Linked DNA regions of Homo sapiens: region 1 is linked to region 2. The links come from fine-mapping of genetic effects on gene expression. A gene starts in region 2. The other region holds a variant in brackets. All regions are shown on one strand. Distances are from middle to middle. Region 1 holds the start of LILRB3 (leukocyte immunoglobulin like receptor B3). Region 2 holds the start of RPS9 (ribosomal protein S9).

Region 1 (5,229 bases), 23 kb before region 2:
GTCTCTACTAAAAATAGTAAAAAATTAGCCGGGCGTGGTGGCGGACGCCTGTAGTCCCAGCTACTCGGGAGGCTGAGCCAGGAGAATGGTGTGAACCCGGCAGGCGGAGCTTGCAGTGAGCCGAGATCGCGCCACTGCACTCCAGCCTGGGTGACAGAGCGAGGCTCCGTCTCAAAATAAAATAAAATAAATAAATAAATAAATAAAAGTGTGAAATATCATCTATTTTTCTTTTCAAAGGCTGTTTGTGTTAGTATTGGTTTGCTATTGCTGCCATAACAAATTACACGTATTGAGCAGCTTCAGCAACACAAACTCATTATCTCACAGTCTTTTAGGACAAAATCAAGGCCATAACGTGGCTGCATTCCTTTCTGGAGGCTCCAGAGACGCGAATCCATTTCCTTGCTCTTTCAGATTCTTAGTAGAAATGCATATACTTGTATATACACAGATTACAGATAGATCTATGCTTATTCGTTTTTTGTATGTACTGTTGACTTATTCACAGTAGCATCTCATCTTCTCCATTTGGGGTTCATTATTCCACTCCCTGATTTACATTGTTTAGTATTGCTTTCAGAAAGAGCCCAGATGCAAACATGTCTGCAGCCTTGCAGCTCAAGCGATGCCTGCTTCTCTGTCTCTGTCTCTCTCCGTGTGTGTGTGTGTGTGTCTCCCTCTCCCTCTCTCTCTCTGTCTCAATCTCTCTCTGTCTCTCCGTCTCTCTCTGTCTGTCTCAATCTCTCTCTTTCTCTGTTGTTATCATAGTACCTGATAAAAGGACACTGAAAACGCCCTCCTTATTCCTCATAAGGCCACCGCCTGACCTGACGGGTCACGAGTGCCCCGAGTCTCCTTATGTTCTAGGATTTATCCACAGCTGACACTGCAACTCGGTCCTTTAATAATAACTAGGCCAGGTTGCGGTGAGCCGAGATCGCGCCATTGCACTCCAGCCTGGGCAACAAGAGCGAAATTGCATCTCAAAAGATAATAATAATAATAATAATAAATAATTATAATAGTAATAATTAGGCCCAGCACAGGAACTCTCTCCTCACAGTTAAACGCTTGTGGTTGTTTCTCCTGTATCTTCTGGGGCTGCTGTTTGCTCTTTGGAACTCCAGTCCCGATGAACTTGTCATTCATTCAAGGGTAATTTACATTTTCTCTGGTAGTTTTATGATTATTTTAAATTAATGCCTCATGGTTTTCACTTTACCATGATCGAGATATTCAATTTAGTTATAAACTGATGTTTTCTCTTCAGTTCTGTAAAAATTTCAACCATTAGCTCTTCATGCATATCATGAACTAACATCCTTCTTCCTTCTTTCATTCTGAAACCGTGACAGACACGTTCTTTCTTCTCATTCAACTTCGTGTATATATCAATATTTTCTATTGTTCAATTTCTGTTCTTTCCATGATACAGTCTGGAAAATTTCATGAATATTTTATCCCAATGTATATATTTATTATTTCAGCTGTCTTGCCCTGGATTAAATTATGCTTTGATTTTGTTATGTTTGCATAGTAGGTATATATGGTTAGTAAATTGCTTTTTTTTTTGAGACACAGTTTCGCTCCTGTTGTCCCAGCTGAAGTACAGGGGCGCAATCTCAGCACACAGCAGCCTCCATCTTCCAGGTTCAAGAGATTCTCCTGCCTCAGCCTCCCGAGTAGCTGGGATTACAGGCACTCACCACCACGCCCAGATAATTTTTTGTATTTTTAGTAGAGATGGGGTTTCACCATGTCACCCAGGCTGGTCTCGAACTCCTAGCCTCAAGTGATCTGCCCGCCTCCACCTCCCAAAGTGCTGGGATTACAGGCATGAACTACCATGCCCAGACATAAATTCCTTTTTAATGGCGTTAATTTAATATAGTTTTTCACCTTCACGATGTCTGTCTAATGCATTTCAACAACTGTCTATTTTGTCCTC[A/G]TACGGTTGTCATTCCTGTGGGGCGGCTCCTCCCACGCACCTGGCCTTTCATAAAGGGTTTCTCCCACGGCTGTCCAGGCATCAGCCTGATGAAGGGGATTGTTGCCGCTGCTCCTGCCCCACTCCCCCAAACTCAGTGTCAGCTCAAGATTGTGCCCAGCAGCGATGGGACCAACGCCAGCCTCACACTCACCTGTGGGGCAGACGCCCATGTCTGACCACCGTGGATCGAATCTGTTTCTCACACACAGGGGAGGGGCTGAGCGCTGACCGTGGCCTCCAGTGAGTGAGCAGAGACCCCCCAGCGCCTGTCCACACACACAGGGGAGGGGGAGCCACCGCTTCCAGCCTCACCCAGAGCCCTGACCCCTCCCTGCCTGGGAGGACGTGGGGTTCCTCTTCTGTCCCACATGGAGGTGGGAGCCTCCTCCTCCCTAATGACGCTCGGTGGTCCCAGACACCTGTGGCCACTCAGCATTGAACTCTGCTCATGGAAGGGGATGCGTCTCAATGTGAGGAACTGTTTTTCCTCTTTCTCTGCCTGTGGCTGTGATGATCTGCATATTTCAGACGTATCACAAGGAGAATTTCATGGTATTTGGAGCCGATGTGGGCTCTTGAGTGGGGGCGTCAATCATCCTCCTCGACTGTGGAGCCCAGCACCAGGATCCTCTCCCGTCCCCACCCTCCTGTCTGAACTGGTCTGGAAATTCACCATGGCTGAGCCTCCCATGTCCTGGGCACCACTGACCCCCACAGCCACTGTGATGAGTGGGGTTCATGACAGCAGGCTCAGAGGTGACATTCATGTCCAAAGTCACATAAACCCTAGATGATAATCAGGAATTAAATACAAATCAGCTCACCTTCCCCAGAATCAGATTATAGATTACAATGAAACATATATATATATATTTCTCTTTATCCCCTCTATTTCTCCTTTTTAGACAGGATCTTGCTCTGTCGCCCAGGCTGGAAGGCCAAGGGGTGATCATAGCTCCCTGAAGCCTCCGCCTCCCGGGCCCAAGTGATCCTCCCACCTCAGCCTCCTGAGTAGCTGGGACCACAGGCATGAGCCTCCATGCCCAGCTCACTTTTTTCTTTTCTGTAGAAACAGGGTCACAGTCTGTTTCCCAGGACTGTCTGAAGCTCCTGGCCTCAAGCCATCACCCGCCACAGCCTCCTGAAGTACTGGGATTCCAGGCATGAGCCACCACGGTAGACCCTGCATTTCTCTGTGCTCACTGCCACACGCAGCTCAGCCTGGACTACACAGCCAGGTGTCAGGTGCGTCTCTGCTGATCTGAGTCTGCCTGCAGCATGGACCTGGGTCTTCCCTGAAGCATCTCCAGGGCTGGAGAGACGACTGCCATGGTAAGGACCCCGTAACGCTGAACTGATGGACGAGCTGAAGGAGGGAGGGAGACCCCATGGGGAGGCTCTGAGAGGGAGGAGGAGCCCACGGTCACCCTCGCCTGAAAGGGGCTGACTCAGGAAGGCACCAGGTCTATTTGCGGCTGTGTCCCCGTCCTCAGTGAGATAAAGATAAATCAGGCAGACAGTGGCCCGGGGGCAGGGAGACCCCATTTCTCTCTGAAATGCCTGCAGAGAGCCTGGTGCCTGCCCCCACTTCAGCCCTGGGGAAATCAGAGCCAGGTTCTTGGGGTGGCAGTTCCTCTTCCTGTGGGCTGAGGATGAGACAACCCCATGACAAGAAGGACCCAGCCTCCGAGCGGCCACACCCTGTGTGTCTCTCTGTCCTGCCAGCACTGAGGGCTCATCCCTCTGCAGAGCGCGGGGTCACCGGGAGGAGACGCCATGACGCCCGCCCTCACAGCCCTGCTCTGCCTTGGTGAGATTTCAAGATGGGGAGGGGGAGATCCGAGTCTTGGAGGAACCCCACCCCACACACAAGCCCTGGTCCATCAGGAGACCTCAAAAGCTCAGGAGGCACCCGGGCGGGGACCTGCTCAGGCTTCAGGGCAAATGCCTCACAGGGAACTCTCTTCCAGGGCTGAGTCTGGGCCCCAGGACCCGCATGCAGGCAGGTGAGTCTGTCCCCAGCTGTCCCAGGTCCCTACTCCTCACTGGGACAGGGGGCCACCCATGGGCAGCTGGGGGAGGAGACAGTAGTTCTGGGTGACTGATGGGGATGATGGGGAAGTCCTGGGGCTGGGAGCTGGGATCTGAGCGTGGGGATGTCTTGGGATCCAGCCTCTGATTTCCATCTAGGGCCCTTCCCCAAACCCACCCTCTGGGCTGAGCCAGGCTCTGTGATCAGCTGGGGGAGCCCCGTGACCATCTGGTGTCAGGGGAGCCTGGAGGCCCAGGAGTACCAACTGGATAAAGAGGGAAGCCCAGAGCCCTGGGACAGAAATAACCCACTGGAACCCAAGAACAAGGCCAGATTCTCCATCCCATCCATGACACAGCACCATGCAGGGAGATACCGCTGCCACTATTACAGCTCTGCAGGCTGGTCAGAGCCCAGCGACCCCCTGGAGCTGGTGATGACAGGTGAGAGGACACTCTGGGGTCCCAGCCCCAGGCTCTGCCCTCAGGAAGGGGGTCGGCTCTCAGGGGCGTCTCCCTCTCACAGCCCAGCCCTGGGGATGATGTGGGAGGTGGGAGCCCCATTTAACACGGTGCCTCTTTCTCTCCTAGGATTCTACAACAAACCCACCCTCTCAGCCCTGCCCAGCCCTGTGGTGGCCTCAGGGGGGAATATGACCCTCCGATGTGGCTCACAGAAGGGATATCACCATTTTGTTCTGATGAAGGAAGGAGAACACCAGCTCCCCCGGACCCTGGACTCACAGCAGCTCCACAGTGGGGGGTTCCAGGCCCTGTTCCCTGTGGGCCCCGTGACCCCCAGCCACAGGTGGAGGTTCACATGCTATTACTATTATACAAACACCCCCTGGGTGTGGTCCCACCCCAGTGACCCCCTGGAGATTCTGCCCTCAGGTGAGGGAGCCACGGCCTTGTCTAACACACTTTCGGGGCAGCTGACAGGTTGTGGGGAGTTTGGCTGGTGACTGAATCTGGAAAGGACCCAGAGTGATGTGTTGAAGGACGGGCTGAAGGCATGAGGGAGACCCCATGGGGAGGCTCTGACATGGGAGGAGGAGCCCTTGACCACGTTCACCTGGAAGGGGAGGACTCAGGAAGGCATCGGTGTGTTTGCTGTGAGGTCCCAGCTCTCAGGGAGAGGAGGAAAGATCAGGCACAGTGGCCAGGGCTAGGGAGACCCCACTCCTCTGAAATGACTCCAAGAC
Region 2 (5,487 bases):
GAACCATCTATCTCCTGAAAAAGAACAGGAGAGTCAGCCACAGGCAAAACCTTTAAGTATGAAGACAATAGTTTTCAACAGCACAATAAACCTTACACCTTCAACAAAAGCATGTCCTACTGCTGAGGCTCCACTGGGCCAATGCACCAAGAGAATTTAAAATGCTTTAAAAATGCAAACCAGGGAGGACCTCAGTGGGAAACAGGTCCTTGTCATCATACAAGGCAGTTAGGTATTACAATGCCTTCATTTCTGATCTGAAAAATGGACATGACTCCTACATTTCTTCACAGTTGTGCTGGGGGGTGGGGGGGGAGTTCGTGTTGTTTTGTGTCTCGCTGTCACCCAGTGCAGTGCCGCGGATCTCGGCTCACTGCAGTCTCTGTCTCCCAGGTTCAATCAATTCTCCTGCCTCAGCCTCCCGAGTAGCTGGGATTATAGGCACACCACCATGCTCGGCTAATTTTTGTATTTTTCGTAGAGATGGAATTTCACCACGTTGGCCAGGCTGGTCTCTGACTTGAGGTCTCCTGACCTCAAGTGATCCGACCACCTCGGTCTCCCAAAGTGCTGGGATTACAGGCATGAGCCACCACGCCTGGCCTCTATCTGTTGATTATTAACTGCCAGCCAAATGTTGGCGGCTGTTCAGTCTTAACAGACGAGACTCAGAATCTCGCTAGTCACACATCTTAGTGGGAAAGGCAGGATCTGAATCAAGGCAGGATTACACCAAAGAGCAAACATCCAAGCTCCTCCTTCCTGTCCCTGACTAGGCTAGATGGCTTCATTTACTAGAAAGTGTACTCACCTGAACAACTGTGTACCCCTTGGGAATTTTCACTTCTGCCTTGGAAAACCACAAATAACCCTCAGACACCTGCACCGCTTTCTCACATGACTGTAAGTTTCATTGCAATTAGGATCTATGTCCAGAAAGTCCTCCCTAAAACCAGAACCAGCTATAGCCCACTCCCCACAGAACCCTGGGATGAATTCCCACCCAGCATCAGTATCTATGGGGGAGGGATCTCCAGCACTTTCATGAGATTATCAACGGGGTCTACAAATTGACGAAAAGAATGAAAGGGTCAGGTGCGGTGGCTTACACCTGTAACCCCAGCACTTTGGAAAGCTGAGGTGGATGGATCACTTGAGGTTAGGAGTTGGAAACCATCCTGGTCAACACTGCAAGATCCTGTGCCTATTTAAAGAAAAAGCTTCTAACATCTGCAAGCCTGGGACAAACTGTGATAATCTGTAGCTAAACATGCGCCAGGACTTTCTCAACGCCTAACATGGATGACCACTCTCATGCCTAACAGTCAGGGCTCAGGTGTAGAGACTGCTTTTCACCATAAATCATGACTACCCAAACTCAGGCAAAAGCAGCGTCTCAGGATATACAAATGCCAATCTTGGTCATGCCAATCTGCTGTAGAAAGCACTCCAATAACACCGCATCTCAGAGTAGATTTTAAAACAAGATGGTTAAGATGGTACATTTTCAATTTAATGTGTATTTCACCACAATTAGTAAAGTAAGCCTAAGTCTATGTGATCTGCATGCCCTCCTAAAGTCATCACCTGAAATGCTGTTCCCTGAGACATTTTACAGGTTCTCTCCTGTTCAGGCCTTTGCTAAATACCACCTAAATGTCCTTGACCAGCTTAAAAAAACAAGCACCAGCCTGGACAACATGGTGAAAACCCATCTCCACTAATAATAGAAAATTAGCCAGGCTTGGTGGCCCATGCCTGTGATTCCAGCTACTTAGGAGGCTAAGACAGGAGAATCGCTTGAACTCTGGAGGCGGAGTTTGCAGTGAGCCAAGATTGCGACAACTACACTCCAGCATGGGCAATGGAGCGAGACTCCGTCTCAAAAGTAAAATTAGCCAGGTGTGGTGGCGTGCGCCTGTCTGTAGTCCCAGCTACTTGGGAGGCTAAGATAGGAGAATTGTTTGAACCCAGGAGGCGGGGGTTGCAGTAAGCCGAAATGGCGCCACGGCACTCCAGCCTGGGCAACAGAGCAAGACTCCGTCTCAAAAGACTAAATAAAACGAGAAAACTTAATTAAAAAAACAATAAACCAAGCAAATGTGCAAACCCTGTTATCACCATCACTTAGCCCAGAAATTCCACTTCATAGTCTACTCTCATCCACTAGCAAACAGGCCACATAAACAGAATATAAAGATATAGACGGGTGCCCAGGTGTGCCAGGCCTATCTTTAGCTCTGGTCATTACTAAACTGAAGGTCCAATAACTGGGCAAAAAAGCCACACACCTAAGAAACAGGGCAAAGACTGATCCAGATACACTTTTCCTACTCCACAAGTGCCACTAAAAGTTAGAAGGCTGGTTCCATTTATCCAATGACACAACTCTCATCACTGGAACAGAGGCAACAGAAGGGAGAATGAACCTCACAAGCCCTGCACCCCATCCCTCTGCTGTGGACTCCCATACGCACCTTCGAACAGACGCCGTGGGTCCTTCTCATCAAGCGTCAGCAGTTCCCGGGCGGCCTTGCGGATCTTGGCCAGGGTAAATTTGACCCTCCAGACCTCACGTTTGTTCCGGAGCCCATACTCGCCTGGTGGGGAGAAGGGGGTGGACAAGTGTAGTCCCACGTACTGGCACAACAACTAGACTGGCAGCTTTGGAATCACAAAACCTTCCTAAACCACGAATAGTACCAAATTTAGGGGACGGACTAGATAGAGTACATGGGCACCTTCATCCACGTGCTAACCGCCTCCCGGAAGCCGAACCACTTCCCGGAAGCCTTGGCCACTCACCGATCAGCTTCAGCTCTTGGTCGAGACGAGATTTCTCGAAGGGTCTCCGCGGGGTCACATAAGTTTTGCGACAAACCCAGCTCCGGGCCACTGGCATGTTGGCTCCGCTTCCCCGTCTGCGCCTGCGCGGGAGAGAAGTGTGAGCGTAAGGGATCCAAACGGCGCCTGCGCAGTCCCACAACTACGCCAAAACCTCGCGGAGCCCAGATCCGATCTCGCGAGAATAACCTCCAACGCTCTCATAGTCAGTATCTGCCCCCACAACCGTGCTGCACTCCCGTTCAACCACCCTGCTCTGTTTCCTAACGTCTTTAGCTTACTCATGGAAACTCGGAAGGCCCGGGCCACCATCCAACCCAAACCCTAGAGAAAAAGCACACCACCGCACCTCACCTAAGCAAACCACCCGGTCACTGAGAAAGAGGCGCGGAAGCGCCACGGCTGCGCTCTTATAGTAACGCCGGCGTCTCGTGACGTTTTCACGCACCACGCACGTCAGAGCCAATCAGAAGAGGCGTTGGCTGGCTGAGAAGCAGTGGAGACGTGAGGCTGGGCTAGAGCGGCGTGCTAACCTGGGAGGACTAGGTTTTTTCCGGCCAGGGAGTGGAAACCTGAGAAGTAGGGAGAACCTTCCTTCTCCGCCCCTGGACGGTGGTTTTTCTTTTTCTTTCTGAGACAGGGTCTCGCTCCGTCGCCCAGGCTGGAGTGCAGTGGCGTGATTTCGGCTCACTGAGGCCCCGACCAACCTCTCGGGCTCGAGCGATCCTCCCACCTCCTCCCCAGTAGCTGGGATTACAGGCACACGCCACGACGCCCGGGTAGCATTTTTTTTTTTTAACAGTCGGCGTCTTGCCATGTTGCCCAGGCTGGTCTTGAACTCCCGGCCTCGAGAGAGCCTCCCGCCGTGGCCCCCCCAAAGTGCTGGGATTACAGGCGTGAGCCACCGCGCCCAGCCGAGATTATTTCTGTCACTAACAATAATGTGGCATTCTGGAACGCTATGTGCCACATACTGTTCTAAGAATTTTAAATGTATTTACTCAATCTTCAATACATACTTACAGAGCACTCTCAGAGAAGTTGCCCCCCCACCCATGGTACTATTATTATCAATAGCCACTTAAGGGGTATTAGTACTATTATCAGTAATTTATTTTATTTTTGAGACGGAGTTTTTCGCTCTCGTCACCCAGGCTGGAGTGCAGTGGTGCGATCTCGGCTCACTGCAACCTCCGCTTCCCGGGTTCAATCGATTCTCGTGCCTCAGCCTCCCGAGAAGCTGGGACTACAGGCGCCCACCACCATGCCCGGCTAATTTTTAAATTTTTAGTAGAGACGGGGTTTTGAACTCCTGGTCTCCAACGCCTGACCTCAAGTGATCCACCCGCCTCAGCCTCCCAAAGTGCTAAGATTACAGGTGTGAGCCACCGCGCCTGACCTAGAGTTCTCTTTTTATATATAGTCTGGTTATTGTCTGTCTGTACACCCATCTCTCCACTCCGAATGCGATGGTCTGTCTCCACAGCTCGTGTTCTTCAGTTGTCTTCCCTACGCTGCTGCCTCGGCAGTCACTATCTCCTCAGGAAGCAGTCCCACCCGCCCCTTTCTCTTCCACGGCATCCACACCATCCGGATGCCTGGATTCAAATGCCACGTCACCACTTGCCAGCTGCAGTGCCTTCGACAAGTTTCTCAATCACTCTGTGCCTCAGCGTCCTCCTCTGTAAAACGGCGAATGATGGTAGCGCCTACCTCATAAGCTTGTGAGGATTAAGTGAGAGTCTATCCAGTGTTGAGGAGAGTGGCATAAATAAAGCGCCTAGTGGTAGCTACCATCGTCATTATTGTCATCTGCATTGTACTTCCATATCTTACAAACTACCTTGTTCAGTTTTATGGGTTTTTTGTTTGTTTGTTTTGTTGTTTTGAGACGGGGTTTTGCCATATTGCCCAGGCTGGTCTTGAACTCCTGGGCTCAAGTGATCCACTCGCCTCAGCCTCCCCAAGTGCTGGGATTACAGGTGTAAGCCACCATGCCTGGCCAAATTTTATGCATTTTTGTATCTTGAACACGCGTATATTATTCATCTGGAAGGGGGAAACGTGGAAGGAAAAAACTTCCATAAGTTTTCACTCCCTTCAGGATGAAGTCCAAGCTCCACAAATTCCGGGTGCCTCGTGATTACAGAGATGGTTTTATAATGGTGGTTGAACCTGTAGGTTCTCAAGTCTTAAAAAAGATCTGCGTTTGAACCTCAGCAGTCACTGACGAGCTCTTGATCTTAGGCAAATTAGCCTCTTCAAGAGTGCTAAATGGGAGAAAGTAACAGGACTTTCCTCATAGGGTTTGATGATTTAGAGTAAAAAAAAAAAAAAAAGAAAAGAAAACCAGCACAGAGTCTTGTGTACTGAAGGTGCTTAATATCTTAACACAGCTGACTCTGTACAGTCTGGGGGCGAGGGGCACTGACCCCCAGCTCAGCCGAAAACCTCCATATAGGCTGGGCGCGGTGCCTCACGCCTGTAATCCCAGCACTATGTGGAAGGCCAAGGCCGGCGGATCAACTGAGGTCAGGAGTTCGAGACCAGCCTGGCCAACATGACAAAACCTGGTCTCTACTAAAAATACAAAAATTAGGCAGGCGTGGTGGCAGGTGCCTGTAATCCCAGCTACTTAGGAGG

What was found. PIP is the estimated chance that this variant, and not a neighbour inherited with it, causes the effect.
Region 1: its variant is fine-mapped to the expression of RPS9 in nucleus accumbens (GTEx, PIP 0.97).

What each region holds. Positions count from the first base shown.
Region 1 is chr19:54,221,517-54,226,745 of GRCh38, reverse strand. LILRB3 (leukocyte immunoglobulin like receptor B3) reads left to right here and starts at 3,739. Exons shown (of 13, transcript NM_006864.4): 1 at 3,739-3,803; 2 at 3,964-3,999; 3 at 4,184-4,468; 4 at 4,616-4,918. The coding sequence starts at 3,770. All of the region lies in intron 1 of LOC124904768 (a long non-coding RNA gene), which reads right to left. The variant A/G (reference allele first, on the strand shown) is at 1,952.
Region 2 is chr19:54,198,600-54,204,086 of GRCh38, reverse strand. It overlaps RPS9 (ribosomal protein S9), which reads right to left and starts at 3,229. Exons shown (of 5, transcript NM_001013.4): 1 at 3,199-3,229; 2 at 2,806-2,927; 3 at 2,478-2,600. The coding sequence starts at 2,902. RefSeq lists a silencer at 2,916-3,409 and an enhancer at 3,172-3,841.